Regions from separate parts of the Homo sapiens genome. Here all the other regions are linked to region 2. The links come from fine-mapping of genetic effects on gene expression. A gene starts in region 2. Each other region holds a variant in brackets. All regions are shown on one strand. Distances are between the middles of the regions.

The links. PIP is the estimated chance that this variant, and not a neighbour inherited with it, causes the effect.
Region 1: its variant is the best candidate, but not a certain one, in a credible set for the expression of MAOA in monocytes (Fairfax 2014, PIP 0.62).
Region 3: its variant is the best candidate, but not a certain one, in a credible set for the expression of MAOA in monocytes after interferon gamma (Fairfax 2014, PIP 0.51).
Region 4: its variant is the best candidate, but not a certain one, in a credible set for the expression of MAOA in monocytes (Fairfax 2014, PIP 0.54).
Region 5: its variant is the best candidate, but not a certain one, in a credible set for the expression of MAOA in whole blood (TOPMed, PIP 0.57).

The regions. Positions count from the first base shown.
Region 1 is chrX:43,536,517-43,542,831 of GRCh38, reverse strand. No RefSeq gene overlaps it. Among named protein-coding and RNA genes, the nearest start is that of MAOA, 120 kb to the left of the region's middle. The variant A/C (reference allele first, on the strand shown) is at 2,508.
Region 2 is chrX:43,652,987-43,659,301 of GRCh38, reverse strand. MAOA (monoamine oxidase A) reads right to left here and starts at 3,003. Exons shown (of 15, transcript NM_000240.4): 1 at 2,888-3,003. The coding sequence starts at 2,960. RefSeq lists an enhancer at 4,110-4,169 and a silencer at 4,101-4,495.
Region 3 is chrX:43,327,044-43,333,358 of GRCh38, reverse strand. No RefSeq gene overlaps it. Among named protein-coding and RNA genes, the nearest start is that of PINCR, 150 kb to the right of the region's middle. The variant G/A (reference allele first, on the strand shown) is at 2,902.
Region 4 is chrX:43,771,412-43,777,726 of GRCh38, reverse strand. It overlaps MAOB (monoamine oxidase B), which reads left to right. Exons shown (of 15, transcript NM_000898.5): 12 at 2,455-2,552. Among named protein-coding and RNA genes, the nearest start is that of MAOB, 110 kb to the left of the region's middle. The variant AC/C (reference allele first, on the strand shown) is at 2,671.
Region 5 is chrX:43,685,079-43,691,393 of GRCh38, reverse strand. The region is part of intron 2 of MAOA (monoamine oxidase A); the gene reads right to left. Among named protein-coding and RNA genes, the nearest start is that of MAOA, 32 kb to the right of the region's middle. The variant A/G (reference allele first, on the strand shown) is at 3,973.

The DNA of each region.
Region 1 (6,315 bases), 120 kb after region 2:
GAAAGGGGTTTCCCTGGCAGAGTGACTCATGCCTTGCTGGAAACATTCACAGAAGCTGACCCCTGGTCCTGTTGGTAGGGCCTACGGAGGCAAGTGTCTAGGTGATGGTACCTAGAGGACATAGCATGGTACTGACTGCCCCCAAACACCTCCTCTCCATCTCTAACACATGACTCTTACTTTTTTTTTTTCTAGACAGAGTTTTCACTGTTGTCTCCCAAGCTGGAGTGCAGTGGTACGATCTTGGCTCACTGCAACCTCCGCTTCCTGGGTTCAAGTGATTCTCCAGCCTCCGCCTCCCGAGTAGCTGGGAATACAGGCGCCTGCCACCACGCCTGGCTAACTTTTTGAATTTTTAGTAGAGACGGGGTTTCACCATGTTGGCCAGGCTGGTCTTGAACTCCTGACCTCATGATCTGCCCACCTCGGTCTCCCAAAGTGCTGGGATTACAGGCGTGAGCCACCGCGCCCGGCCGACTCTTACTTTTAAAATACCATCTGCAGATAATTTAAGACAATACTCTTAGGAGTTTGTTTTAAGATATTCATAAAATTTCTGTTCTCTTGAGTATAACAGGTTAAGCAGCCAATATTTGTTACCACATCAAGCTACTATCCCTCACTTTGCAGAGAACAAGGGCAAGGATAGATGACAATGCCTTTATATGAGGGAGAGGGGTAGGGAAAGGATAGTGTCTGGCGGTTCTCAAAGTACAATCCCTGGACCATCAGCATTTAGAATGAATTAGAAATGCAAATTCTCAGGCTTCACCCCAGACCTGCTGCTTCAGAAACTCTGCCTCTGGGGTTCAGCACTCTGTGTTTTAGCAAGTTCTCCAGATGATTCTGATGCATGCTAAAGCTTGAGAACTTCTGATAAAGACACACATACACACAAAAGCTAAGCCAGATTTTTCACCCAATCACTTTTCAGCTTCACAATTCAGGACAGTGTTCCTGGTGTCCAGCATTGATTAATCAATTGGGAACATCTGCCTTGGCCGTGAGATGGGGAAGGGGATGGAGGTTGCACATGTCACTTGCAAGGGCATACACAGTTAAGCACTAAGGATCTCAGATAGAACAAAAGGCCTTCAGTAAATAGATACTTGAGATGTTAGCCTACCATTTTTCTCTTAACCAGGGCTGCTCAAATTTCATCTGTGTATTAATCCCCTGGGATTTTATTAATATGCCGATTCTGATTCAGTCTGCCTGGAGTAGGACCAACATTCTGCATTTCTAACCAGCTCCCAGATGCTTCTCCTGCTGCTGGTCTTCAAACTATGATTTCAGTATTGAAACTGCCTTTGCAAAAGCTATAACTATGAGAAAATTATGACAGTGAAAGATATCCAATCTAATCAACCCCCATCTTGCCTTTAACCTCTAAACTGCCCTTAATCCTTCCTGGGCCTGGGCCAAGCTAACCTTGGGAGACATTTAGTTTATAGTATAAATGATAATAGCCCTTTCCCAAAACTAAACCTCTTTCGTAAAACTAATGAAAGGCCACCAGGTTAGGAGGATGAGAGGACCCTGGCTTCTGCTGAGGTGTAGACATAAGTAATTACCAGCCCTTATTCCAGAGATATTCCACAAGATATGCAACTTTCCCAATTACTTCTGTGGATAACATCACTATTGTAGATTGGCCTTTGGAGATGTCTTTTCAGGTTTTTGCATTTCTGACAATGATGGCTCCACCCAGACCTGCCCCCTACGCACCCCCAAAAAAGAAGGACCACTTTCCACACACCCCTTCCCTTGCTCGCCAAACTATCCTTGAAAAACCCTAGCCTCTGAATTTTCAGGGAGATTGATTTGAGTAATAACTCTCTCCCACATGATGTGGCTGGCTTTGTGTTGATTAAACTCTTTCTTTATTGCAATGGCATGGTCTCAGTGAATTGGTTTTGTCTGTGCAGTGGGCAGGAAGAACCCATAAGGTAGTTACAGTACCAAGCCTCTAAACGTTATCGACCTTACTTTTCTGAGTCCCTGCCAAAATATTATTTTTAGCAAAAATAGACCAAATGTTATACCATTTTACACAGAAAAATACTGAAAGGAGTGCCACCTGGTAAAACCCTCTACAGGGCAACTAACTGCAGAGTTGTGAATGTACTTTTTCTGCAGTGCTTACTGACTGCTCCTGGGCCCCTTGGCTCTGTCAGATCCGCATTGCAGTACTGCCAAAAAGAAATCCTTGGAACCTTCTCATTTTTATTTCTGTTTATTCTAGCCATTGCTTTCAAACTTCGGTTCAATGCAAGGTGGGAGCCAAAATGGTAAACAGCATTTAATGACCGATGTTTTTCCCTTCTCTCTTCTCCCTTTTAAATAAAACCTACCTGCTGTCAATTACTGAGTACTTCTAGGCAGGATTAGAAATGTCACTAAAATCAGGTCAGCACCACTCTGGAACTTTATCTCCTTTTTCCTTTGTGTCTTTTGTTTCCCTAGGTTGCTTAAGTTATTCTATTAGGTCTTTTCCAAAAAAAAAA[A/C]CCAAAAAACAAAAAACAAAACTCAGTCACCATGGAGTACAGCCAGCTGTGGTAGTAGCAATCAAAAACCTCTTTGCATTAAGAAACAACAAACAAAACCTCTCTGCTATTGTTTTTCTTCCCATAATATTCCAACTCACATGGTATATGATAGAACGTATTTCTTTCTTTTCTTTTTTTCTTCCCTTCTACCTTTCCTCTGTGTGTTCCCCCTCCCCCGTCACTTTCTTTTTCCCTTCTTCTCTACCTCTCTGTTCTCTTTTTCTCTTCCTCTCACCCTCACTGATTTTTCCCTCCCCTCTTCCCTTCTCTCTTTGTTTCTCTCTCCTGTCCTTCCTCGTTATTATCCTGGAACGTGTGATTATAAAAATCTTTCTTTCTGCTGATGAAGTCAATGCATGTATCCAAAGTCTGTCATTGCAGAGTCACCTGAAACCAAGTTCAATGAAGCCTGAGAGAGTTCAGTCTCCTCATCTAGTAACTACCCTTCAAATGAATGCCCCAATTGTTTGTTTTAAATTAGTGAATTGTTATTAACCAACAACCTGAAATCCACTACTTGTAGCTAGAACATAGAGTTTCCATTAATGTGGAACAAGTGCAAGATGCTTAAGGTAGCAGCATGTTTATCGCTTTTCATTTGAAGGCACTAGGTAATGAGGTGGGATGTACAGCATCTGCCATTTCTGTTTACAGCTCACATCTCATGATGTGAGACCAAGTGGCTCCATCCAAGTGAGGGGTGCAGACATTAGCCTCATGCTCACAACCTAGAATGTCTTCCTGACATGATGAAAGTGTTGATTGTAGCTTTCTTGACAAACAAATCCTGAGCCTCTGGGAGCTGTATGAATGTGTGCATAATATCAGTAACAGCTCAACCAAGTACTTCCACCAGGTCCGAGGCTCAGAAGCCCTTTGGTGATATTTATCAATACAATAGGGGAGCAGAAAACAAGAGAGCTGTCAGAAATGCTCAGTGCCTTGCCTTCCTGCAGGCTTGCTGGGAGGAAGCCTCCCTGAGGTTTTCCATTTTCTCCTTATCCTCCTAGCTGCACTTTCTCCTGCAGAGCTTGTTAGAAGCACTGGCCAACACTTCTTCAATTGCGTGAGGCTTCAGACCTGTCTTCTATTAACCAGCGGAAATAATGTTTTCTATTCTGCTGCACAACCACAGGCCAACTAGAAGCAACACACAGGCAAGGAAGTTGACCAGTGTACAGGCCTTAGATCCTTTTTATCTATTTTCTTTGTCAATTATATTTCTAAGTACTTTGAAAACCCACACACCTTGCCTTGTTTTACAAATGATGGCCTGGCCTCATGTGCACATTTAATATACGTAAATTTTCCTGTATGTGTGCAGCAAAGAGGGATGAAGGAATGTTATGTATCTTGGAAATGATTCCAAATACTTCCATAGTTTGCTATGTGAGTAACATGTTTTGCTGTGCAAGAACTTGGAATATACTCCTTCTTCCCCTCGAGCATGTGATGTCTTATCAGACCTCATATGAGAGACAGAGAGCGTTTGCTGTGACCAGGCTGCTCTCTGTCAGCCACTTCTCTGATACCTGAGGTTTGCTCTGTTAATCTTTGAGCTTTGAAGCCTTGCCCACCAATACTGGTACTGTCCTCTAGCACTGAGGGGCCTTACATGTCCTCATGGATCTCTGTTACGTTGAATGCCATCGCTCCCAAAAAACTGCTTGTAACCAAAAGGTATAACTCAAACTTTCATTTGATGTTACTTTCCACAGAGGCCTGCTTCCATCCTGATTGAACAACTAGACTTTAATAATTTTGGATCTCATTCACTATATGCTTAATGTCCCTCATCTATTGAGTGTGTTCCCTGTGAGATTTGTTCATGTTATTCTCCCCCTTTATAAGCATTGTGAACCTAAGGAAAAAAAAATTCTCTTTTTATGGCAATAAACTGTGTGATTAATGAAATCACATTTTGATAATCTCCTTATTGTGATCATACATAACAAGGAAGGATTTAAACACTTCAAGAAATTTTGCCCATCCTTCACTCAAGAGGCATGTGCCCCAGATTGAGACTTCCTGAGGGGACAGCAGATTCTAGGCTTCTGTCTCATGTTCCTTGCAATGTTTCTTGCTTCACTGAGTCTGATTCTAGTATTTAAAGACTCAGCATGTATTTTGAATACAGTGTAGCCCCTGTGTGCAACTGGGCTTTATGGAAAAATTCTGTTTCTCTAAACTGAAGTTGTAGTGGAGTAGTTAAGAAAGAGCATAGGGACTGAAATCAGACTGACAGGTCCCAAATTCTGGCACTAGCTACTTGCTGTTTTAGCCTCAATTTCTCCAACTCAATTTCCCATCTGTAAAGTGTGGCGAATGTTGTAGGGGAGGAAAAACTTTGCCCTCTTAGGTTCAAGCACTGGGCCTGCAAATTAAATTGACAAAAGAAGAAAATGTTTACTATGCATGCATGCAGGAACTTTATTAAAAAAAGTAAAAATCCAAAGAAGTGGTTAGACTTCAGACCTTATGTACCATTATAACAAAGGTCAATAAATTATGGAGAAGTGACTAGACAAAGCAAAAGTAGTTTGGATTTTTAGGGGCAGTAAATAGTGGGAAGGTAAATATATGGGAAAAAAATTAAAGAAGATAGGGTTAATTAGTAAGCTTTGTTATGCAGACTCAAATCAGGGCCATCTCCAGTGTCTGTGGTGATTAAGAGTCATTCTCCTCTTCCCAGTGCTGGAGAGAGGAGGGGGGGACACCTTCACAAAGGGAAACTTACGCCCTGCTTTTAGGCAGAAGCAGGGAGGATAAAGAATTCCTATTCTCGCTGGGCGAGGTGGCTCACGCCTGTAATCCCAGCACTTTGGGAGGCCGAGGCCCAGGCCGGTGGATCATGAGGTCAGGAGATCGAGACCATCCTGGCTAACATGGTGAAACCCCGTCTCTACTAAAAATACAAAAAATTAGCTGGGCGTGGTGGCGGGCGCCTGTAGTCCCAGATACTCGGGAGGCTGAGGCAGGAGAATGGCGTGAACCCGGGAGGTGGAGCTTGCAGTGAGCCGAGATCACGCCACTGCACTCCAGCCTGGGTGACAGAGCGAGACTCCGGCCCCCCCAACACCCCCAAAAAAAGAATTCCTTTTCTCTTCTTGCTGCTTCTTAATTGCCTTTAGCTCAAAATAATCCTTATGCCAAAGTGGCATATTTTGGGCTGGCACAATCCGATCCCCTTCATTGTGAAGTCTAAAGAGTAAGAATTCCAGAGGGTTGTTATAAGGATTAACAGTAGTAAACATTTTATAAGTACTCTTTTTCCCTTTCAGTGAGGTAGAGGAACAGGCTCTAAATCACATAGCTGGGGAAGTATGTACATGCTCTTTAGGGATCTCTGGGGAAATGGAGTGCCTTCCTCAACAACTTCCCTACAGAAGCCTAGGTGGAAAATCAAGTAGTCATGGGGAGCAAGGCCTCACCTCACCAAAGATCTTTTATTTACCATAGGGGCTTAGAGTATGTTGGTGGTGAGACAGCTTGGCTGGTGGTTAGGTGGGATTGGGCTGAGCAGATGAGGAATGATGATTCACTAAGTAATCTCTAACGGCCACTTCTCTTACCCCCACTGCAGCTATTTGATCATAATATTCCTATGTTCTAAAGACTTTCATCCATAACTGGCTCAAGCTAAGGATTAGGTTCAGCCACAGGTGAAGTTGTTTTTCTTAATAGCACCTTGTCTTGCTCTCTAATCAATATTTTGGGCCAGGCACGGTGGCTCACACCTGTAATCCCAACACTTTGGGAGGCTGAG
Region 2 (6,315 bases):
CAACTATTAACATACTATATATAATTATTTAATTGGTGGTTAGGCAGATAAAAAGAGTTTGTGGTTGTAAGACATAGTCTATTTTATGTTTTATAATGACAAAAAAGGAGATACATCCAGATGCTGCTATTCTCTGTGTAGAGAGTTATTTAAAAAATGTTGCTAATATGGATCAATTTTGAGTAATGTCACTTAGAATATGTACTCTTCTGGGTGCTATATAATAGAAATAACACTGCTGATGCTATGGATTGGTGATGTATTATGAATGTGTGGGTAACCTATCAAAGTGTACAAGTCCTAATAAAAGTTATAAAGAACATCCAAAGGCATATAAAACTGCCACAGGGACTATTAAGTAATTCATGGGATACTGCCAAGCACACACAAAAATGGTATGTTTCTGAATTCACAAGAATGCTTGGGAAGTGATGCTTCTCACCCGCTCATGAAACACTCAGTTTATGTCCAGGATCTAACACGAGCCACACTTGCAACTACTTTCATTTTAGCTGTGAACCATCTGGGAAGGTACCACAGATAGAAAGCAATGTTTCTGGTCAGTTTGAGTATTAAAATCACTCAGATCTGACTGATGGAGATGGCATTAGAGGAAGTCAAGTGCTTTTTCCAGTGTCACTGAAGCTGGCCTCTGGAATAGAGGTGTGAACTACTGTGCAAGAAATGCCCTCTACTTCCCCCAAATGGAAATAAATTAATAATTAAGAGTGACTATGGACAGATTCAGGTTTTGTGGGACCTACAACTTATATATAACTTGGGTATCCTCTCTAAGAAATAAGAAAGCAAAATTGCAAATACAGGACTGAGTATGAAACTGGTTATTTATTTAGAATGAGAACCAGAAGCAACCTACAGTTATAAGGCCATAAAGCATAAAGTTTATCAGCTACATGGTAATTTCACCTCTGCTAATGACCAAGTATGGAGCATAAAGTATAGAAAGGGAGGAAGAGCAGGTAATCAGGCAGAGGAAAAATAAAAAAACCGCGCTCCTTAAGGAATTCTGGAGACTGAACAAGAAAAAGACTAAGAATAAAATCCCAGAAAGAACTCTGAATTGCAGAATACAGATGGTATGGAGATGGGAGAGGACCCAGAACCCCTAGTCAATGTATATAACACATTGTCATCATATTTATTTTCCAGTGATCTACAACCATATTGCTTTTAGGAGGCTTGCCTAGTGGGACCAGATTTTGGGAAACAGCAGTCCACTTCATTGCAGGTACTCAACAAGTGTTTTTTGAATGAATAAATAAATACATAAATAAATAAAGAGAAACAAGCTGAAATACTCCTTTTTCTTACTCTCCACCAGGAGCTGCTTTCCTCTGATGCTCCAACATACATGTATGTTTTTGCTGGTACTGGCTGGAACTGGCAAAGCAACAGTTCATGCCAATCTCTTCTCTTGGCCTGTTCAGGATAAACAATGTTGGGTTCAGATAAAGCTATCTCTACCCAACATTAATTTGTAGCATGTTCAGAGTCTCCTCGAAAGATTTATATATAAAAATGGCTACTGTGGGGCCACTCTACTTACTCCCTCCCATCAGCTTTCTCTTTCTGAATCAGATCCTGCAGGGATAACTCAGAAATTATTAACACCTAGTAGGGGGAGGATAGGTCAGTGTGGTATTCTAGCCAGGGATGAAAGGCAACAAAATTCCTAATTTTCAAACATTTTACCAATGATGGCAACATAGGCGACAATATATCAATCATGATGAGGCTTCCAGGAAGATATTGGAAAGCCTCATGCACCACTCACTTGGTTAGCCACAAATCCAAGCCAGGACCAGGGGCACCCTGGCCCACCAACTGGCTCATCAGAAGACAAGATTCAGGTGGTGGGAGCTCTTAGTGAAAGGAGGAAGGAGGATACAACAGGGCACTCAGCCCCTGCTTCATAAAGGGATTCTCTTTGGACAATAAATGTCCTACACCTTCCTGCAAGTTCATATATATATATACACACACACAGTTCATATATATATATATATAAACACAGTTCATATATATATATATAAACACAGTTCATATATATATATAAACACAGTTCATATATATATATAAACACAGTTCATATATATATATAAACACAGTTCATATATATATATAAACACAGTTCATATATATATATAAACACAGTTCATACACACACACACACACACACACACACACACACACACAGGAATAGTTTAAGAGCTCACCCCCTCTTCTCCTCTTTTTTTTTTTAACCTTTTCTTAAAGGAGTCTACCTCCTTCCTCTTCACCTACTAAATTTTCTACGGAAAATAGAGAAGAGCAGGACTGGAATAACACTACTGCTCCCTCAATACTACAGAAATCTGTATCCTGATGTTCTGTTTAGGGCAAAGGATATGAAATCAGTGAGGCAAAGCAGCCACCTCAGGAATTAGTACTGCAGGTCTTAAATGGGAGAAAATCGTTCAGCCACTTACAAGCTAGGTGATTCGACCTCAAGAGAGTTATTGAAACTCCCCAGACCTCAGTTTCTTGGTTTTGCAAAACGGGGATGAATTTAGTTCCCACCTCACAGGACTGTTGAGGACTGAGAAAATCCACGTAAAGTGCTAAATACAACTGCACAGCAAGAGCTAATTAAATATTAGTATTTAATAGTAGTAGTAGTAAAATTATTGTGTCTGCCTCCCCCAGTCACACCACCAGCAAAACTGGCACAACCCCCACTCCTACCTCGCAGGATATGGGGCCAAGCCATGGCTACACTACACTCTCGCATGCATGAGAGACCCCCAAACACCACAAGAGCTACTGTAGGTTCCCCTACCCCTCACTGGCCAGGGTCCCCCAGGCCACCGCTACGGTCCACACTGACCTGAAATGCCACCTCCGATCACGACTACGTCGAACATGTGGCCCGCGATACTCGCCTTCTCTTGATTCTCCATGCTTTGGCTGACACGCTCCTGGGTCGTAGGCACAGGAGTGGGGACGGCAAAGGGTGGGAAGGACCCTTCTATCAACTCCCCCGGGGAGCCCGGGGGCGGAGCCGATCCTTCTTTTGATACCCGGGGGGAGCCGGGCACTGTGGGCGGGGCGAACCCTTTTGCTGATACTCCGGGAGCGCCCAGGGGCGGAGCTGATGTTTCAGCTGATACCCGGGGGGAGCTGGGCACTGAGAGCGGGGCGGACCCTTGTACTGACACTCGGCGAGAGTTATTAGGTTTAGAATGTCCTTGTGTCGGCAGCTGGAAAGGATTACTGGGTGCAGGAGGTTCTTGTATTGAACCCCGCGGAGTGTCAGGCACTGAGGTGGGGGTAGACGCCTGCCTTGACACTGGGGGGATGTTATGGGGTGCAGGAGGTGCTTGTGGCGACACTGGGGAAATGTTATTGGGTAGAGGTGGTCCTGGTACCAAACCCCAGGGGAAGCTGGACACTGAGGATGCGGCAGACCCTTGTACTGACACTCGGGGGTGTTACTGGGTGTAGGAGGTGCTTGTATTGACACTTGCGAAAGGTCATTGGGTATAGGAGGTCCCCGTACAAATATCCAAGTGTAGTCGGACACTGAGGTCAGGTTGGAATCCGGGGGCAGGGTCGGTCCTTTTACCAAACCCCGTGGGGTGCTGAACCCTGAGGAGAAGGCAGACCCTTGCAATGACTCTACGGGGGAGTTTACGGGCGGGGTAGGTCCTGTTACTAATACCCAGGGAATGCCGGTGTCCTGATTGGAGGCTGTGACGGCCCCATCGGAGGAGTTCGAGCTGGTGGTAGACTTGGGGATCCGACTGCTCGGGTTGTAAGCGCTGAAACCCCGGAGGCCACTCTTGGAGTCGGAGTCAGTACTCTCGCTAAGACCGGTAGTGCTGATTGGGGAGTGTATGCTGGAGCTCCAGGAGGCGGCCTCGGCAGTTGAGGACGTGCTCCACTGGGAACTGGCTAGCGGATCCGAGACGGACCGCCACTCAGAACGGACGCTCCATTCGGACAGGCTGTAGGAGGTGTCGTCCAAGCTGGAGTCCGGGTTCGGGACCTGGGCAGTTGTGCCCCCGGCTTCGGGCGGGCCCTCCGCCTTGCGCTCGGTGCCGGTGCCGGTACTGGTGCGGGTACTGGTGCCGGTGCCGGTACTGGTGCGGGTACTGGTGCCGGTGCCGGTACTGGTGCGGGTACTGGTGCCGGTGCCGGTGCCGCCGGGGAAGGAGGCTGAGGCGTTTGTGCTCATGTTTCTGGAGCACGCTGGGCGCTGGGGGCGGTGTTCTGCTTCCCGCAGCCCTTCTCCACGGTCAGGCTGTTCTCGGTACCCACTCTTAGAGACCAGCCCCGGGCTCCCGGCCCAGTCAGGGGCGGGGAGAAGTGACTCTAGGCCGGCCTGGCTCCGCCTTCCCGGCCTGCCTGCAGGCTCGCGCTGGAAACCCTGCCACTGGGCGTGGCCGGACGATGCCACTGCAGGCGGGGGGCGCGGTTGCCTGGCGAGAGTGGGGGAGTAGACGTGGGTGTAGCCGCGTGGGCTCTCAACCTAGTGCTTTCATTCTTTAGTTTTAACTGAAAGCTATCTGGGCAAGAGTGGACTTAAGGAAGCAGATATATGAAGGCGGCTGAGCCAGGCAGGATCGCAGGGTCGCAGGGTGCTGCCCCACTTGGTCTGGCCCCTTTGTGACGTCATGTAGGGCCCGTCGAGGTCTGCGCAGCCTCCAGCCCTCACTAGGTTGAGGGCGGGGCGGGGAGGGGCGGGGAGGGGCGGGGAGGGGCGGGGAGGGGCGGGGAGGAGCGGGGAGGGGCGGGGAGGAGCGGGGAGGGGCGGGGAGGAGCGGGGAGGGGCGGGGCGAGGCGAGACGGGACGGGGCGGGGCGAGAACCGTCACTTGGGGGAGACCAGGCAATTGTTGGTTCTCTGTGGGGTTTTTCAAGCTGAGGCGCTTAACCCAAATCGAAGCAAGTAGGCAAGAAAAATAACTCACCTATCATGTATTAAGTGGGACTGCATTTTAAAAGGTCAAAGGGATGGCTAAGGTGCAGAAACAAATGAAATAAGAAAACATGTGTTTCCCCATCCTACTGAAAAGAGTGCTATTTAGTGCACATATTTTACTGTGCAGCCAGCCTTCTGTTTGCTAGTTTTATCCCTTTCTTAATTTTCCACTTTTTGTTATCCTGAATTTGTCATCAAAAGCTGAATTTGTCATTACTGGAACTCTCAAAGATAGGTGAAATCTGGCCGGGCGCGGTGGCTCACGCCTGTAATCCCGGCACTTTGGGAGGCCGAGGCGGGCGGACCAACTGAGGTTGGGAGTTCACGACCAGCCTGACCAACATGGAGAAACCGCGTCTCTACTAAAAATACAAAATTAGCCGGGTGTGGTGGTTCATGCCTGTAATCCCAGCTACTCGGGAGGCTGAGGCAGGAAAATTGTTTGAACCCAGGAGGTGGAGGTTATGATGAGCCAAGATCGCGCCATTGCACTCCAGCCTGGGCAACAAGAGCGAAACTCCGTCTCAAAAAAAAAAAAAAAAATAGGTGAAATCGTGACGTAAATTTAGAGAAAGTGATGAGAACTCGAGGAAGCTAATGATGTCTGCTCCCACCTATAAACATTCCTCCTGTTGCCCCTCGCCCCATTCTGTATCAAACATCTTGTTGAATAAACTGTAAAGAAATATGGATTTAGTCTTTTCTTCATCCTGTTTCAATAACTTTTACTTCCTAGAAAAGGACTTGAGACTTATGACTAAATTGAAATCATTTTTATCTTGGTAGACTTTGAGCATAGAGAGAAGAAAAACTAGATATGAAGAAATCAGCTCTTTCTAATGTGATTCTGTCCACCTTTCTCCTTATTCTCATTGTTTTCATTTATTTTCGTTCAAATACTTGATTTCACAGTATGTGCTAGGCACAGGGCATGGTACTGGGATACACAGGCAACACAAGACAGAGACCATCATCATCGAACACACAGTCTAGTGGATGAGTTAATAGAGGACATAGACAACTGTCTATCTGATGTGTAAATACAAACTCTGACAAATGTTATATTAGAAAGATCCACATGGATAAGAAAGTGTTAGGGTGTCCTGAGTCCTGACCCCTCTGGAGATTAACTTTGGGACAGAGAGTGTAAAAATGTTTTAGAAAGAAGAAACAATGTGTGCAAAGGCCCTGTGGTAGAAAAAAAGCATAGTTCATTAAGGCAACTAAAAGTTACTCTGTGGAGCTCTGGGCAAGGGGGAGACAACGCTGCTGAGGCCGACTGGGCCAAGGTAGCATCCTTGGCCTCGATCCTAAGAGCAACAAAAGCCACTG
Region 3 (6,315 bases), 330 kb after region 2:
ACAAATCCATAGAGCTTCAGAATCTGAGCAAGAACTTACTCATGATCCCCAATTGATGTGAGAGAGCAATGAACACAATGGTCCCAGTAGGTACATTGCTTGGTCACTTAATGCTCCTGGGGAATGCGGGAAGCTCCACTTTGGGTCTCACTTCTGATGCCATGTGTTAAAAGAAAAACCTTCTAGGTGCAGTGGTTGACAATTGAAATCCCAGCACTTTGGGAGGCCAAGGTGGGAGGATCACGTGAGGCCAGGAGTTTAAGACCAGACTGGGCAAGAATCTGGGTGCTACAAAAAATAAAAAAAAATTAGTCAGGTATGGTGGCACACACCTGTAGTCCCAACTATTCAGGAGGCTGAAGCAGGAGCATCACTTGAACCCAAGAGTTTGAGGCAGCAGTGAGCCATAATCCTGGCACTGCACTTCTGCCTAGGTGACCGAGTGAGACCCTGTCTACAAAACAAAACAACAACAAAAAACTTTAGACAAATTAAATTTAACAGAGTTTAATTGAGCAAAGAACAATTCAGGAATTAACGAGGCCCTTGAACCAGAATAGATTCAGAGAGACTCTAGGACAGCCACATCATCGAAGAGGATTTATGGACAGAAAAAGAAAAGTGATGTGGGCCGGGGGCATGGTGGCTCACTCCTGTAATCCCAGCACTTTGGGAAGCTGAGGTTGGTGCGTCACCTGAGGTCAGGAGTTCCAGACCAGCCTGGCCAACATGGTGAAACCCCATCTCTACTAAAAATATAAAAATTAGCCAGGTGTGGTAGCAGGTGCTTGTAGTCCCAGCTACTTGGGAGGCTGAGGCAGAAGAATCACTTGAACCTGGGAGATGGAGGTTGTAGTAAGCCGAGATCGCACCATTGTACTCCAGCCTGGGTGACAAGAATGAAACTCCATCCCAAAAAAAAAAAAAAAAAGAAAAGAAAGAAAAGAAAGTGAGGCACAGAAACAGCTTATTGGTTATAGTTGGCATTTGCCTTAATTCAACATGGCTTGAACAGTTGGCCACCTTTTAGCTGAAACTCAGTGATTGGTAGAAGAGCAAGTTATAGTCTATTTAAACATTTAATTAGGTTATAGTTCACCATGTACAGAGAAATCTTCAGGTCACGTTTAAAATATTTAAGAAGGCAGGTTAAATTCAGTGACTTTCTTAAGATCTCATGGTAAATTGGAAGCTGGGATTAAGGTTTCTGAGACAGAATGCCTGGGAACCCTAAGTTCTGCATAATGCATGTCAGGTTTCCTACTTATTTTCCTTTCTATATTTTCCTCCTTAACACTTCCAATTCATTCTATCTCTGGCTTGCAATTTAATTCCTTCTTGCCCACACCACTGAATCTCCACTGCTGAGCCACAAAAATAACTCTTTCTCTGCACAGCTGAATTCTCTTCTTTCCAAAAACAGTTGTGGATAGAAGCATCCATTTCTTCACAGTAAAACTCCAAACCTGGGCTGGGCTTGTCATGCTTGTAATCCCAGCACTTTGGGAGGCTGAGGTGGCAGGACTGCTTGAGGACAGGCCAAGAGATTGAGACCATCTTGGGCAACATAGTGAGACCCCGTCTTTACAAAAAATTTTAAAAATTAGCTGGGTGTGGGGTACATACCTGTAGTCCCAGCTACTCCAGAGGCTTTGGAGGGAGGATCACTTGAGACCAGGAGCTGGAGGCTGCAGTGAACTATGATCATGCCTCTGCACTCCAGCCTGGATGACAGAGCAAGACTACATTTCTAAAAGCACAAACCCAAACCCTATCCACCAGTCTGTTTTCTTGCCTCAAGGCTCTAATAACATAATCACAGAAGAGTTAAACTTTCAACATTTTCACAAGTCTGAGGCACTGTTTCATATTTTTTTGTTACCTTATTATGCTAAGAATATTTAAAACCCATAGAAAATTACATGGATAATTATTACTAAAGTCAACAGTGGTTTTCTTCTCACGTTTCTTAAACTTAACCATCTTAATCTAATTATGATAATTCTACCTAAGTAAAGATTTATTAGAGTTATATTTTCCTTCTTTTTTCATTCATACCCTCTGGAGCTATAATGAATAGGGAAACATTTGTAGGTTAGAAACTGATACCTAACCAGGCTCTTTCTGCTCACACACAGTAAGCCAATCACTGTAACAATGGGTTTTGCAAAAGAGAAAGGGGTTATTCATGAGGCAGCCAAGCGAGGAGGTAGGAGACCAGTTCTCAAATATGGTTTCCCCAAAATAGTACAGGTGGTCTAAAGTGTGGGAAAAGGTGATTGGCAAGTAAGAAAGGTGAGGTAATTAGGGTTTCTGTGCAAGTGTAATCAAGCTACATGGCTATTCACTGGACACATGTTCAGATAATGGCATTAGCATGATCTGAAAAAGGAGTTTTTGGTCATGTGATGTCAAAAGGTTACCTCTTGAGCATTTGCACAAGCCTGGTTGAAGGGTTGGTGATCTCAACTAGTTTGAACTGGACAGGAGCTGTCCCTAAGTTTCTAAAAAACAACTTTAAGCAACCATTACTGTAATGATCCACAGTCAGAAATGTTATCAACAAGGAAGTTAGTCCAATATTAGATATGTATTGTTTGGCTATGTGATTTGCTAGTGGGAGTTCTAAGATCAACTAGAAGTAAGTGATTAAAAGCAGCCAAGGCTGCTTAAGTTTGGCAGGCTTAATCAGGTTAGCCCTCAGTTTCAAAACGAGGAGGGTGAAAAAAAATCAAATAATCTTGTCAATCTACTGATTAGTCAGTGAGTTCTTGCATAATTTGGAATTTGGAATCCCTTCATTAAATTGCATCTCAGAATCCTGAAGGTTTCATGACTCATCAGCATCTCTGATATCCAGAAAATCTTAGATACATTCTGAATTTAGGAGAGAGAGAGAGA[G/A]AAAAAAAAAACACCACCAAACACCCTGCCCCTTGCCCCACAACACCCATATCTTCTTGACAGCCAAGTAGAAAATAACATAGAGAAAGTCCTCAGATAATCATTCCATTTCTGGAATGATTCCAAATCTTAGCACTTCATCTTTGTTTTTGCTTGTTGTCACATCCTATGAGGATTGTCTAAATGTTGTACAGCTATTAGATTACCTGAAAGATTGAGTTGAAAACATTAGGGCAACATATAGTCCCTTCTTTAAAGGGCACTGGATGTTGGTTATAACCAGAAAATATGGAGCCTGGATCTATCCTCTGAGATTAGAATTTTATAAAATGCCCTATTTATTAAACTATTTTAAAAGGCATTAATTTAGGTGAACTTAACCTAGACTTTAAGAACAATAAGAAGAATAAAATAAAACTTCTTGAAAAAAATTTTAAAATAAGATGCTGTGCTTAGATGTATAAAAGTTTATAATTTCCCATAGAATAAATGATTAAAAATAAAAATACTCCTTTTAGTTTAATCATTGATGCCAGGAAACTATTTGGGGAATGATAGGGTTAGAAAGGTTAAAAGTTAAATATTACCTGAAGCACAGCCCACAAATAAGTTTTCTTATCATATAACCATCTCTTTTCTCCTAATCTCCTGTTTTATTTTTTTCTCTAAAGCTCTTATTTGTTTGCTGACCATCACTTTGGGTGGTTTAAATAAAATCGAATTAGATGTAATAAACTGCAGATAATTTTCTGCTTGTTTATTTTATTTTGGGTTTTTAAAAACTATTTATTTCATAAATAATCACATTGTATTCATTACTTACGCCAAACACCATAGGAGATAAAAACTGAATATGGCACAGATTATGTCCTGAAGAGACTCATATTCACCCACTGATCATCTTTAAAAAAACTATTTGCAACAGTATTATTTCTTGCCAATAATGATACCAACATCAAATACATCATCTTTAGTCTGTAGTTTTTTCCTCCCTGACTGCATTAAAAAATCTGTGCCAGCATCAAAACCTTCTTCCCCACAAATGATTGGTCATTGAAAACATACAAATAAAGGAAATTGAATTATTTCTTTCTATGTTTGTTCTTTTATTGGATCCATTTGGATATTTAAATAAACTTTAACAGTTGAATCATAAAATGATGAATCTTTCTAATTCTTCTCTTTTGACTTCATTGATTCTACAAACTTCTGAGCACCTATTGCATGAGAGGTGCTGTCATATGTCGCTTTATGATCTAAAGAGAAGACTCTCACATTTTCTGAAGCAGCAGAAAAGAATTATATACACATACAGAAAATTTCCATCTGGCATTTTGTGACAATTTTTTGATCCACTGGTTAAAGAACAAAATCAAATATCATGCTTTGTTTAAAAAAAAAAAGTTGAAGGGGTGAGGAGGGTATTTAAAGTATATATATAAGTAAGACACATATTTTTTTTAAAATATAAAATGGTGGAACTATAAATTGGTACAACTACTTTGGAATATTGTTTGGCTATGCCTAGTAAATCTAAACATATGTATACCCTATAAATTATAAATTAAACTCCTAGTTTTATGCCCATCAGAAATGCACACACATGTTAACCAAAAGACATATTCTGGGTTTCTCATATTGTGGGAATCAGGAGACCGGAGAGACCAATAGGGTGGAACAGAAGGATTTTATTTAGGGGCACCTGCTCAGCGGATTCACATCCAAAAGGCTGAACCCTAGAAAAAGACAGGGCTTGACTTTTATACATGCATCTGTGGCACGAAATGCAGTGACGCAAAAGCACGTAGAACAAAGACAGTTTATCAAACAGTGACAGGCTCATAACTCAGGCTTTCATGTGACTCCTGCTATGTGGGCCAGGTGGCTGTTATCTAGGCTTGCTCAGATGCCTGCACAATCTTATCTCGTGTCCTTCGCTACAGCGCCCAGATGGCTGCAATCATATCTTACTCAAGCATGTCGCATGACCTCTGCAGTGCTACAGAGATTTACAGATACTAGTTACAGAAAACAGGAATCTATAAACTCATAAAAACTTGCAGAGCAGGGTACAATGGTGTAGCTCAGGGTACAATGGCACAGAGCAGGGAGGGATTCGATGGGGAAGCTGCTCATACCAAAGGAAAGGAAGAAAATTTTTTTCCCTTTTTAACTTCTGCTTCACTCAAAGCAGCAGTATTAAAAATAGTCAAGGTAAAACTCAGGAAGATGGTGGATAGGACACAGGGCTAATGTGCATCTCCCACTTGAACGGACAGAACAGCGTGTGGAGACTCACACTGTGAACTTTTGCACCAAGAATCGTCACAGGAATGTATGAGGGAAACAGAAAGAATTTACAGATCCTTTGAAAGAAGTGTCATGTTGCTGCAAACTCTACGAGACAGGCAAAAACTGTTAGTTACCAAAGTGTACGAGGGGGAAAACCTGCCTCTGAAAACACTTCCCCATTGGGGAGTCTCAAAATCCGTATCACTGGAGAAGGATTTAACTTTGCCTACAGCTGGAACAGACTTATGGAGCCATGTGCAATATTAAAGTAGAGGCAGCAGCAGAAAGAGCTTTGTAGATACTCCCAGTCTTCAGCTTCAGCCCAGGGAAGCCGTCCATGACTATATCTCACAGGAGCCCTTGGGGAAGGGAGCCAGCAGAATTAGGGAGGGGTCACAAGGTGAAAGAAGCTTCCAGCTGAATTTTGTGATAATTTTGACTGTGCACAAACTTCCTTGAACAGAATCCTGAGTGGGGGTGTGGCGAGTGGGATCTGCTGCAGATATAAGCACAGAGCCACTGACATTGTGAGCAGACAGGGAAGGGCATGGCCTGAAAGCCATGCTTGTTTTCTCAGCAGGGAAGCTAATGGCCAGGTAAAGGTCTGAGTTCCACACACAGGTTGCCTGGATCTAAACTATTAGCAGGGCACTGTGGGAGCGAGACCAGTCTCACCAACTGTGTGGGAGGTGGGTGAGGCCTTTCACTACCAGCTATTCCCCACTTCCCTGGTGAAGTATACTGCACAGCAGAGGCAGCCATAATCCCCTCTGGAACATAACCCCAATGACCTGAGAACCACCCCCTCATCCCCTACAGTGGCCGTGGCAAGCCCCACCCAAGAAGAATCTGAGCTGAGACCCGCCTAACCCTGCCCCACCTGATGGTATTTCTCTACCTGCCCTGCTAGCTGAACACAAAGGACATAAACACTTGGGAGCTTTATGGCCCCACCCATCACCTGAGAAACCAGAATACTTCCCCTGGCTAACTTGGGGCAGTCTCAAATTCCATTGCTAATACCGCAGCTGGTGCTCTCTTGAAAGTGTCACCTCCTGGTTGGAGGCCAACTAACTCAGGCCATTACAGCAACTCATGATAGAATAACACTGTTCCCAGGAA
Region 4 (6,315 bases), 120 kb before region 2:
TTGTTAAGCCTCTTAAATCCAAGTCTCTGTAGTATATACCACAATCTAGTTGAGCAGCTACATGACTTAGTCCTATTACTCTAACACTTACTTTGCTCAGCTTTGGAGTGACTTGCTTCCTCCTGGTTAAGTTGTTGTGTCTTTCAAATTTGTCATTTTTGTTCACTATTTTAAAGCAAAATTCTCTCCCTCCCTCCTCGCCCCACCATTGCAGATCTTCTGTACTTGATACAGGTGAAACACATGCTCTTGATGTTTCTTGGAATTCTTTCTCAGCAAATAAACTAGAACAATTAGAGAAACAATATTAATGAGGAATATGTTTTGCTTTTTTTTTTTGCTTTCATATACCAATTAGCAAGTTTAAATATAGGCATAGCCTCCAGGCTCAAGGATATTGAGTAAAGTATCAAGACAAAAAATACAGTATATACTCACTAAAAACAGAACTTAACATCTGTTAAAAATTATTAGTTTTTCTGTTTAAAAATGCCATTCAGCATGATTTATAATCCTTTGGGTATATACCCAGTAATGGGATTGCTGGGTCAAATGATATTTCTAGTTCTAGATCCCTGAGGAATCGCCACACTGACTTCCACAGTGGTTGAACTAGTTTACAGTCCCACCAACAGTGTAAAAGACATATGCACACGTATGTTTATTGCGGCACTATTCACAATAGCAAAGACTTGAAACCAACCCAAATGTCCAACAATGATAGACTGGATTAAGAAAATGTGGCACATATACACCATGGAATACTATGCAGCCATAAAAATGATGAGTTCATGTCCTTTGTAGGGACATGGATGAAGCTGGAAACCGTCATTCTCAGCAAACTATCGCAGGGACAAAAAACCAAACACTGCATGTTCTCACTCATAGGTGGGAATTGAACAATGAGAACACATGGACACAGGAAGGGGAACATCACACACTGGGACCTGTTGTGGGGTGGGGGGAGGGGGGAGGGATAGCATTTGGAGATATACCTAATGTTAAATGACGAGTTACTGGGTGCAGCACACCAACATGGCACATGTATACATATGTAACTAACCTGCACGTTGTGCACATGTACCCTAAAACTTAAAGTATAATAAAAAAAAATGCCATTCAGTGCTAGAGGTCTGGAGAATAAAGAGTGTGGAGTTGATTTAAAAAAAAAAGCCATTCAAGATATTTCACCCTGGTAGATATTCAAGCTTTGTGAAGTTACATTCTGAGGCACTCCCAGGCTAAAGCAGTTTGTTAATTGAAGTTCCTGCAACAACTCGTGAGATGGTTGTTTGGGGAACTTCAGTTGAAGGGGAAAGCATTTGTCCTCATATTTTGAAAAAGGCTGATCATTTTTCATTTGAGAAAGTCTCTTTTCCTAAGAAGGGTGTGCATGATTAATTCCTGATGATAAAAATAAGTTGGTCCTGTCCTTGTTTGCTCTTGGCATAGAGAAGGCCACTTGTTTTCTTTTTGCTTTGGTGTCTATTTTGTGGAAGGAAGAAATTCCTGGGAACAAGATACATTGAAAGATAAAGTCCAACTTTTCTTCTGATTGGCTGGAGACAGCCAGAGAAGCTTGCTTAGGAGGTGGATGTAGCCGTCAGGTGCTGGGGCGTGTAGCGTGGTGATACCACAGAAGACCTGGAGCCACTTAACCCATCAGGCAGAACCTCATAATCATACTTTGTAAATAGGATGCCTTACAAATGACTGTCCAAAGTCAGCTGTGTGATTGCAATTCTTTTAAACAAAATGTTTTTCAAAATCTCCCTTTAAAACAAACATTGTTTTCTTAAAACTTGCTACGTTGATTTTATCTTTTCGAAGTAATGCTTAATGATAAAGCTTCTGTTTGGTTACTTTAAAAAAGCATTTGAGCTTTACAAAATCTCTGCCAATTTTTCCTGTTCGTGTCAAAAACATATTTTTCAGACCAATAGTTGTTTACAAATACCACCATCAACAGAAGTGCTTGCCTGCCACAAAAACATGTTTGTTCAGCCTCCCTCAAGAAAGCTCACCTCCACCAAAACATGAACCTGATAATCCTTTTTCTTCAACAGACATATTTTTCTGTCTTTTTTTCCTATCCAGTCACTCCAGTAAACATAAATCCTTTTAAAAACTTTTCTTGAAACCATCAGGCACTAAAACTTTTTAATAGGTAAAACCAAGGTAAAAATGGAATTAGATTATCGCAATTTATGAACAGTACTTAAGATACAAAGAAACCAAATGAAAAAAACATTCTAAGATCTGAATTTCTTAGAAGCTTATTACCAAGGACATTTACCTGCCCAAAGACATATCTTTAAAAACATCAGGATAATGCAACTCTATTTCCGAAATACATTGGTTTGACAATACAAAGCCTACTAAACTGTTCGATTTATTCTAGGCTAAATAGCTTTCTCTGAGTCTCCTTCAAGTTTTTGTTGCTCTATCTTGCAGCCAGTGCATTATGAAGAAAAGAACTGGTGTGAGGAGCAGTACTCTGGGGGCTGCTACACAACTTATTTCCCCCCTGGGATCCTGACTCAATATGGAAGGTAGAGTAAAAGCATGCTAAGCTGTTACAGAAATCCCCTGCACCTGAATCCAAAACCTAAATAGGTTCAGGTAGCTCTTCTCCCTTGTTTCTTATAAATACAAAAAAAAAAAAAAAAA[AC/C]AACCCAATTTCCTTTGTATCTTATGAATGAAATCGTGTATCTTATGAATGAAATCATTATAATTATACATACATCATGGTGCTGCTTTTCCCTGGAAGAGCAATTCCAATCAATATAACCATAGAAGGTTTCAGCATAAGAATAGCATTTTACCCCATTCTTCATGATATGATTATTACGCATTGCATGCCTGTATCAAAACACATCATGTACCCATAGATATATACACCTACTCTGTACCCATAAAAATTAAAAATCAAAAAAGAGTAGCATTTTAGGTAGTCCAAGGGTTCACCCAATGTCAGAAGAAGTGTCCTTATACTGAGTTAGGACTCAGTAAAACTTCCTCAAATGCCACTGTACAACTGCCAACACGGGGACAAAATTATAAAAACAAAATGAGTTCTAGACTGGGCATGAAGAGACTTGGGTCCCAGCTCTGATTCTACCAATAACAAACTTTGTCATGCCAAACAGGTCACTTCTCCTTTCTGAACCTCACTTTCTTAGCAAGTGGATGGGAAAGCACAAAATGATGAAAAGTGAGCAATAATCAGTATGCTCAAGAAAGTATGAGTTTTTTTTATTTTTTGATCCTAATCCTTAGATGCTGGGAAGTATGAGTTATTTTTTAACATCCTTATTGAGACGTAATTCACATACCATACAATTCACCTATTCAAAACGGTGCACAGTTCAATGGCTTTTAGCATTCACAGCATTATACATCCAAGTGTGTTGTTGTTTAGTTAATTTATTTGATGACAATAAATGAACTAATAATATAGCAGTGATTTTTATGACTATTATACTATTACTAAACCAAGCAATAATTTAATGCCAAAAGCTTAATCTAAACAGGATGAGAAATGTAGACTAGTGAGTCAAAGACTGTTGAAAGTATGCAGCAAACAGAGGGGGTAAGTGGAAATGGCTAATCAATCTGTCCATGAAAACTGGTCGAATAAGGAGTAAAACCTGCTTATCAGAAGATACGTAATAACTTTGGTTAGCACTTTCTTTACCTGCTTAAAGATGGCAAAATATTATCCAAGAGAACATTCTGGGGCCAAGGGGCAGCACCTGATAAGCTGCTGGGTCATTAAGTTAATTTTTAGATATGCTGACTGTGTTACTCTATTTTCACACTGCTGATAAAGACATACCTGAGACCGGGCAATTTACAAAAGTAAGAGGTTTATTGGACTTACAGTTCTACATGGCTGGGGAGGCTTCACAATCATGGCAAAAGGCAAGGAGGAGCAAGTCACATCTTACGTCGATGGCAGCAGGCAAAGAGAGAGCTTGTGCAAAGAAACTCCCGTTTTTAAAACCATCAGATCTTGTGAGATCCATTCATTATCACCAGAACAGCACAGGAAAGACCCCCGCCCATAATTCACTCATCTCCCACTGGGTCCCTCCCACAACACATGAGAATTATGGGAGCTACAATATGAGATTTGAGTGGGGACACAGAGCCAAATCGTATCACTGAGTGTAGAATATGTCAATGGTATTTGTTTCATTCTGCATTTATTGGCTAAGTGCCAACCATTTGCGAAGCACTGTGCTGAGAACTTCAATACCAAGGACAGCCTCCCTGCTGAGAAGGAGCTGACAGTGTTGAGGGCTAGGGTGGGGATGGGGAGAGGACATGATATCAAAAATTGACTCTAAAGTACTGACATATGTCCCTGGAAGGGAATAAGGATAAAGGAGGGCACTACTGTATCACCACTCAGAATGTTACCACTGAGGTAAATGCTCTAATACAGGGGCATAGAGATACCACTGGAACACACAGAGGCACAGGCTAGCTTTACTTAGAGAAATCTGGGAAGGCTTCATAATGCACATACCACCTGAGGGTTGTAGGAGGCAGAGAAAGGCTATTGGGGATGCAGTCTATGCAGATGGAATGGCATGAGGAAAACGCTAGGATCCCACAGGTTTCTGGAAAGTCTGGGGAAGAACTTTGCATGGATGGTGTATTAGGCCATTCTTGCATTGCTTAAAATAAATACCTGAGTCTGGGGAACTTATAAAGAAAAAAGGTTTAATTGGCTCATAGTTCTGCAGGCTATACAAGCATGGTGCTGGCATCTGCTCAGTTTCTGGTGAAGCCTCAGGGAGCTCACAATCATGGCAGAAGGCAAAGTGAGAACAGGCAAGTCACATGGCGAAAGCAGGAACAAGCAAGTGTGGTGGGGAGAGGTACCATACACTCTTAACGTGACCAGATCTTGCTAGAACTCACTATCATGAAGAAGGCACCAAGCCATGAGGGATCCGTCCCCATGATCCAAACACCTCCCACCAGGCCCCACCTCAAGCATTGGAAATTACAATTCTACATGAGATTTGGGCAGGGACAAATATCAAAATATTATATCAGATGGGCTATGGGTGATATTAAGGACAGAATGGAGAATCAGATCAAAGGGGGAGGAAGAACAGTTTGCCCTATATGACACATTCAGGAATACAAAACTTGATATTTCAACAGAGAACAGCTATCACTGCATTACTTTTGTTTTTGGCTTTGTTTTAAATCAGAAGTGTGATATGATTAGATTTCTGACCACAGAGTGGTGGGTTTTATGCTCAATTTCATAAATACCTTTTGGTTTGGGGAACAAAGAGGACACTAACCTGAACTGGCCTGATCCTGACCACGTGAGAGAAGCAAGATAAATCCCATTGTATCTGGCATTGGTGGTGATACAGTAATGCCTTCTTTTATCTTTATTCCTTCCCAGGGATATATGTCAGGCTTCCTATAACTACCTTCAATTTTTAGGGTAGAAACTAAGGCACAGCATAGCTTAACATAATTCCCAGCTTGAACAGAGACTACCTGCCCAGAAGACTTCCCTTGACCCTTCAGGGCCATGGTATTTAAGATATTGCAATAAGTTTTATATTCAGAGCCCTGAAAGTTCACAGTACATGTTCTGAAGGAAAAGAGAAGACAGAATTACCAGTACAACTTGGTAAAGAACTAAATATACATTTCTTAAGAAATGTTTCTTCTGGATAGGGTGAAAAAAATGATTGTCGTGATTATGCAGTAAAACTCATAAGCCACAAGAAATATATGTGGAGTTCCCCTTTATGATGTCCTATATCTTTTGTAAATATATACTGTCTGTTCACGCACCTGCAAAAGAAGGGGCAGGTATTTTTCTTACCTGGTTGTTGGACTCTTTTTTTCCCTTAAAGGAACATAATTTCCAAATGACAAGTGGCGGGAAACTATCTCTTTGTTTAAAATTAATTCTTGGTTTTCACATATTCTGATTTATAGTATGATTAGTTCTCTAAGCCTTTGTTCTGTCTTCTAATATTTCATTCTTAGGGTCTAGCCAGGCCTCCTAGAGGTCTCCAGCTGGGGTTAGTTTTCTCCATTGAAAAAAAAGTAAACATGTAGTGAAAAACGGCATTGTTTAATCAACACGGGGAAAGTCAATCCACCTTCTCTTGTAGGAAGGGTTCCTTCCTGAGTACCCTTAGGCTCTCTATATATTTCATGTGTTGTCATCAATATACTAATACAGGTGTTCCTCAAAATATGATGGGGTTATATCCCAATAAACCCACCATAAATTGAAAATATTATAAGTGGAAAATGCGCTTAATA
Region 5 (6,315 bases), 32 kb before region 2:
TATTTTTATTTTTTTTTTTTGAGACAGGGTCTTACTCTATCAGTCAGGCTGGAGTACAATGGCATGATCATGGCTCACTGCAGCCTCGACTTTCCTGGGCTCTATGAATTCTTCCACCTCAGCTTCCTGAGTAGCTGGGATCACAGGCATGTGCCACCACACTCAGCTAATTTTTGTATTTTTTGTAGGGTTAGGGTTGCTCAGGCTGATCTCAAGCTCCTAAGCTCAAGCGATACACCTGCCTTAGCCTCCCAAAGTGTTGGGATTACAGGCGTGAGCCCCACATCTGGCTCTGATCTCGTATTTATTTGGGGTGTTTCTTTTTCTGGAAAAATCTTATCAGACACTTCTTGTGTATCTTTAATAGGTCTCTTCAAAGAATCAACTTTTATTTTATTGATCCTCTTTGTTGGGTGTCTATTTTCTACATCATTGATTTATTCCCTTTTTACCCCTTCTTTGGATTTATTTTGCTCTTAATTTTCTAACTCTTTGCATGATTAGCTTATTCATATATAGCCTTTTTCTTTTCTAATGGAAGAATTTAGACTATACATCTTCTAAGTATTGCTTTAGCTGCATCCACGACTTTATATTTTCCATTATTTTGCAGCTCTAAGTATTGTCACAAAGAAAAGGAAAAAAAAAGCTTATCTTTATTTATGTTTTCCATCTGAATTTAAGCTATCCATATGATATGAAAAAACTTGGGCAGAAAATTTAAAGTGTCAAGGACGGTGGTAGAAGTAGACTTAAGTCCTTTTCCCCTATGCCTCAAATAATTTACACACAGATAAAGTTCCATGGAAAATTAGCAACCCACAGCCAAAAGTTACAAAACATACATGCAAACAAGGCACCAAAAGAAAATAAGCAGAAAAAATAATCCAGAAAGATTTCATAATAGTTGAATTATACACAGAATCTAAAAGTACTATGCAATATATTTTAAATAAAATAAGTCATTAAAACTAGGAGCAGGGGAAAAGAAACTGAAAATATTATCAAGTAGATTAAAAAATAACTGCTAGCAATAAAAATGTACTAATTAAAATTTTTAAAACTCCGTGAATGGATTAAACCATATATTTGACATAGTTAAAGAGTGAGTAAACTGCTAGATCTGAATAAATTATCTAGAATGCAGTTCAAAGATAAAGAATTGGAAAATATGTTGAGGAGGTAGTTAAGACATGGAAGATGGTGTCAAAATATTAAGTAGTATTAAAAAATAGTGGCTGAGGATTTACCAGCATTGTTGGAAGATAAGAAACCCAACAGGTCCAAAGAATGATAAATAAAAAAGAAATTCTCACCCAGACACAGAGAAACTGCAGTATACCAAAGAAAAGAGCTCCTAAAAGCAATTCTTTTTCAGAAAACAAAAGAGGCAAATCATACATACTCTGAAAAAAATCAACAATTAGACTTACGAGTGACTCTTCAACAATAAAAATACAAGCCAGAAGATAGGGGAATAATATCTTTGCTGTTCTGAGAGAAAAAAAAAGAGGAAGAGAAATTCTAAGTAGAATTTGTTACCTGTTAGAACTATGTTTTTGTCAAGCTGACAAGTGTACAGAGTTTAGGACCCAGATTGGAGGAAAGGGTGTGTTTCAAGTAGAATGAAAATGGTTACAAATAAAAGGTCTGAGATTCAAGAATGGACAGTGAACAAAGATACTGGCAAAACTTTAAAGAAAATTAAGCAACATCAACAATAGAATAAAATAAAATTAATAATGTCTGAGAAACATACAAACTTGAAATACTTTTATAGTTTACAGATTGGAAGAAGGGTGCTCACAACTGAAGCATGAAAGCTTTTGTATTTTTTAGTAGAAAGATAGTATGTTGATAAACTTTAGACTACATTAAGTATGAGTGTTAATATAGTTAGGAAAATTGTCTGAAAAACATTGGTCTGACTATATAACTTCTGAACAAGTAGAAGAAAAAACTTAAAAAGAAAACAAAAAGAAGAAAACCATTAACCCAAAAGAAGGAAAGAAAGAAACCAAGAGGAAAACTGTTAAAGTGGGACAAATGGAAAGCCATAATATAATAAAGTTAAAACATTTAAAAAAGAAATCATAACAAATATAGATGGACCAAGTTTGTCAATTAACTCCACTAAAAATGCAAAAATTAGTTGGGTGTGGTGGCAGCGCCTGTGATCCCAGCTACTGGGGAGGCTGAGGCAGGAGAACAGCTTGAACCCAGGAGGTGGAGGTTGCAGCGAGCTGAGATTGCGCCACTGCACTCCAGCCTGGGCAACACAGTGAGACTCTGTCTCAAAATAAATAAATAAATAAATAAAAATCCTGTACCCCCTGAATCTAAAATTTAAAAAAAGGAAAAAAAGTCAGAATAAAGAAAACTCTAACTGAAAGATAAAGAGATATACAAATACTAATGTAAGCTGTTATAACTATATTAATATCAAAGAAAACCTTAAACAAAATAAATCTCAGTGAAATAAGTGTCACTACATAATGCTAAAAGATCCAGAAGGCTAACCAAGTTTAAACTTGCATAAACTGAGTAATATAGCTTCAAAATGTAAGCAACATTTGACAGGAACCAAAGATAAGTGCCCAGTAGAACAGAGAATTTTTAACATACTTTTAAAAGTGATTAATAGATTAAGCAAACAAAAAAGAAGGAGCACAGTTAAGCTTATTCTAGTGGACATATATAAAACACTGCATATAGCTTTTAGAGACTACATGTTCTTTTCAAGCAGAAATTAGAAGATCTTTGGATATTAACCATGTGCTTGCTAGGTTATAAAGCGAGCCTCAAGGATTGTTACCATGAAACAATATTCTCTGACCACAATGCAGTGATGACGAAAAATAACTGAAAAACATTCCAGGTGTAGAAATTAAAACACACCAGCCTGGCCAATGTGGTGAAAACCTATCTCTACTGAAAATACAAAAATGAGCCGGGCATGGTGGCGTGAGCCTGTAATCCCAGCTACTCAGGAGGCTGAGGCGGGAGAATTGCTGGAACCCAGGAGACAGTGGCTGCAGTGAGGTGAGATCGTCCCACTGCACTCCAGCCTGGGCAACAGAGTGAGACTCCGTCTCGAAAAAAAAAGCAAAAACTCCTAGCAACATGGATCTAAAGACTGTAATACAGAAGTCTGCTGGTATATTCAAGAAATAGCAAGGAGGCCAAAGTGGCCGGAACAATGTGAGCAAGGAAAAAAATTGAAGATGAGGTTACAGAGGTTATTGGCAGAGCAGGTCACGTAAAGCCTCACAGGACATTGTAAGGACATAGGCCTTGGCTGTCAGTGAGAAGGGGAGCCGTTGGAAGGTCTTGAGCAGGGAAATGCTAAAATCTGAGTTACATTTGAAAGGCTCACTCTCACTGATGCACTAAGAAAGAACAGAATGTAGGCGGCAGGAGTAAAAGCAGGAAAATCAGGAGCCTACTCTAGTAATCTGGCCTAGAGATATAATGGTGGCTCCCACCAGGGGATAGCAGTGGAAGTGGTGGGAAGCGTTGAATTCTGGATATGTTTTGAAGGCAGGGCCAACGGAATTTCCTGACAAAACAAATGAGGGTCTGGTAGTGTTGAGCATGACTCTGAGTTTTTTCGAAGTTGCCATCTTCTAACATGGGCAGCTGGAACAGCGGCCTTAAGGAAGATCAGAAGTCTAGTGTTGGATGTGTTACGTTTGAGATGTCTATGCAACATCCAGGAGATCTACAAATTTCTAACTTCCATGTCAGATGAGCACAGCATATTGTATTCAGCATTTTACTTATTTCAATGAGGAGTTAGGGTTTCCATTCTGCCATAATACCAGAAATGAAGTGCTTCTGTGACTTCTTTAATGTGCCCTCATATAATGTTTATTCTCTCTTTTAGTAACCATCAGTGCTGTCCTTCAAACCTTTTCTAATCTACAACAACTATTTTAAGATATAATGAACAAAACTGGAATTAGTACTCCA[A/G]TAAATTTCTGGGCTTTAACAAAGACAGCAAGGGGACTCCTGGGAGTTTCCAAACATGATGTCTTTAGAATGCTGACACTATCTTTAAAGCAAATAATCCTAAATGAAGCAGTAAAAAGAGTGAGGCATTTTGCAGAATGTTCCTTTACAAAGTAAGAACGTTCTAAATGAAGTGCCTCAAATTCAGCATGAAGACACTAGAAGCGGTAACACTGTATTCTACTGTGTTGCACCTCAGTCTTTGGGGTCTTGATTTAGATCTCACTACTCAGCCTTTGAAGAGGCCACAAACATGCAACAATATTGGAAACATACACCAACCCTGTGGCAGCCCTGCAGGCATTTCAACTTTATTAATTTGACTCTGAAGAATCATGGATGAATCACATTAGGAAAAACGGGCAAGTTCTGAACTAATGGAAGACGCATCTGAACAGCTTGCCAGGTAATACCAAATTTGACATTCTGGTACTCAGAGATCCATAGTAGCTTTTATGGCATCTCCTCCCAAAATTATCCTAATTGATTATGTTATTAGAAGCAATTTAAAAAATATTTGCTTCAGTTTCTTATTAAATACAATTTTCATGCCTGTTTCCTTTTTTAAAATTTTTAATTTTTTGAGTCAGGGTTTCACTCCTGTCACCCAGACTGGAGTGCAATGGTGCAATCTCGGCTCACCGCAACCCCTGCCTTTCAGGCTCAAGTGATTCTCCTACCTCAGCCTCCCAAGTAGCTGTGACTACAGGTGTACACCACTGCACCTGGCTACTTTTTGTATTTTTAGTAGAGATGGGGTTTCACCATGTTTCCCAGGCTGTTCTCAAACTCCCAAGCTCAAGTGATCCACCTGCCTTGGCCTCCCAAAGTGCTGGGATTACAGGCGTGAGCCACCATGCCCGGCCTCCATGCCTGTTTCTTAAAGCCCTCTTTCTCTCCTTCTCATCATTTGGAGTATAAATGCTAAGTCCTAATTTCCAAGCATTTCAGAGATTCCTTTCTCACATTCCTAAGGGGGGTGTAATGTCATGCTGAATAGACAATAACAGTTCCTGTGTGGTGCTGACATATATAAATGACACAGCATGGCAAAGTAATTGGGGCCAATAACACAGATGGGGACAAGTATGTTGGAATTCTCATTTCCCTTATACAAAGAAACTTGTTCTTAACTGAAAATCCGCAACATGACTAATGCTCCTGTTTAATAACCAAAAGGTTTTAGAGATAAGAAAAATAGAGCTAAGGGACAACTTAATAACTATCTCCAAAGTGGAGGAATATTTTTCAGAAAATGACAGAAGAATCATATCTAATAAAGGCATACAGGCAGAAGATGCAGCTCTTCATTTGCACTATAACACGCTGCCTTCAATTAGAATTTGAAGATGGAAGGGAGTTTCTTCGAGGACATTTAGATAGTATCTTATTACTCAGATGAGAAAACTGAGATGTAAAGTGCTAATAGGACTTATCCAAGACATCATGTCAAGTCAGTACAGAGGCTAGAATCCCAGTCTCCTCACTCCCAGACCAATAGCTTCCCAGTGGACTACATCTAAGGGAGCACTCAGAAAATTTAATCCGGATTGGCATTAGTTTAAGGCAAGCAAGCAAACAAATGCCACAGAGTAGCACTTCTATAGTGTCCCCTGGAGATGTTGTCAAAATGCAGATCCAGATTCAGCAGTTCTGAGATAGGGCCTGATATTCTGCATTTCTATCAAAATCCCAGTTGATTCTGGGGCTACTGACCCACAGATGACACTTTGCATAGCAAGGCTGTACAGCACCCTTAGAGCTGAGCAAAGCAGAAATAGGCCTAGATACATCCCTGTATCTAAAAAGGTAGGAAGCAAATGACAGAAGGGTAGCATGGTACAATGTGGCTGAAATCGCTGCTATGAAATCCTAATTCAAATGTTGTCTGTAGGTTATTCTAGTATCCATTGATATTTCCTCTCCCATGCCTGCTTCCATTATGTAGCCTAGTATTGTGAAATACTTACTTTCCCAGGATCCCTGACAGCTGAGGGTAGCCATGTGACTCAACTCTAGCCAATGAGACTAAAGCAAATGTCTGCTGGGGTCTTTTGGCGAAGGAAAAGCTTAGTTGCAGACAAGGCTAGTGCCACCCTTTCACTCTCCTTTCAGCCTTGAATGAGAACTTGATGCTTAGAATCTCAGCATCCATCTTGTTACCACAAGACAATAAACCTACATGCAAAGAATATCAGAGCAGGGCTGGGTGCGGTGGCTCATGCCTGTTATCCCAGCACTTTGGGAGGCTTCAAGGCCAGTGGATCACCTGAGGTCAGGAGTTCGCAACAAGCCTGGCCAACA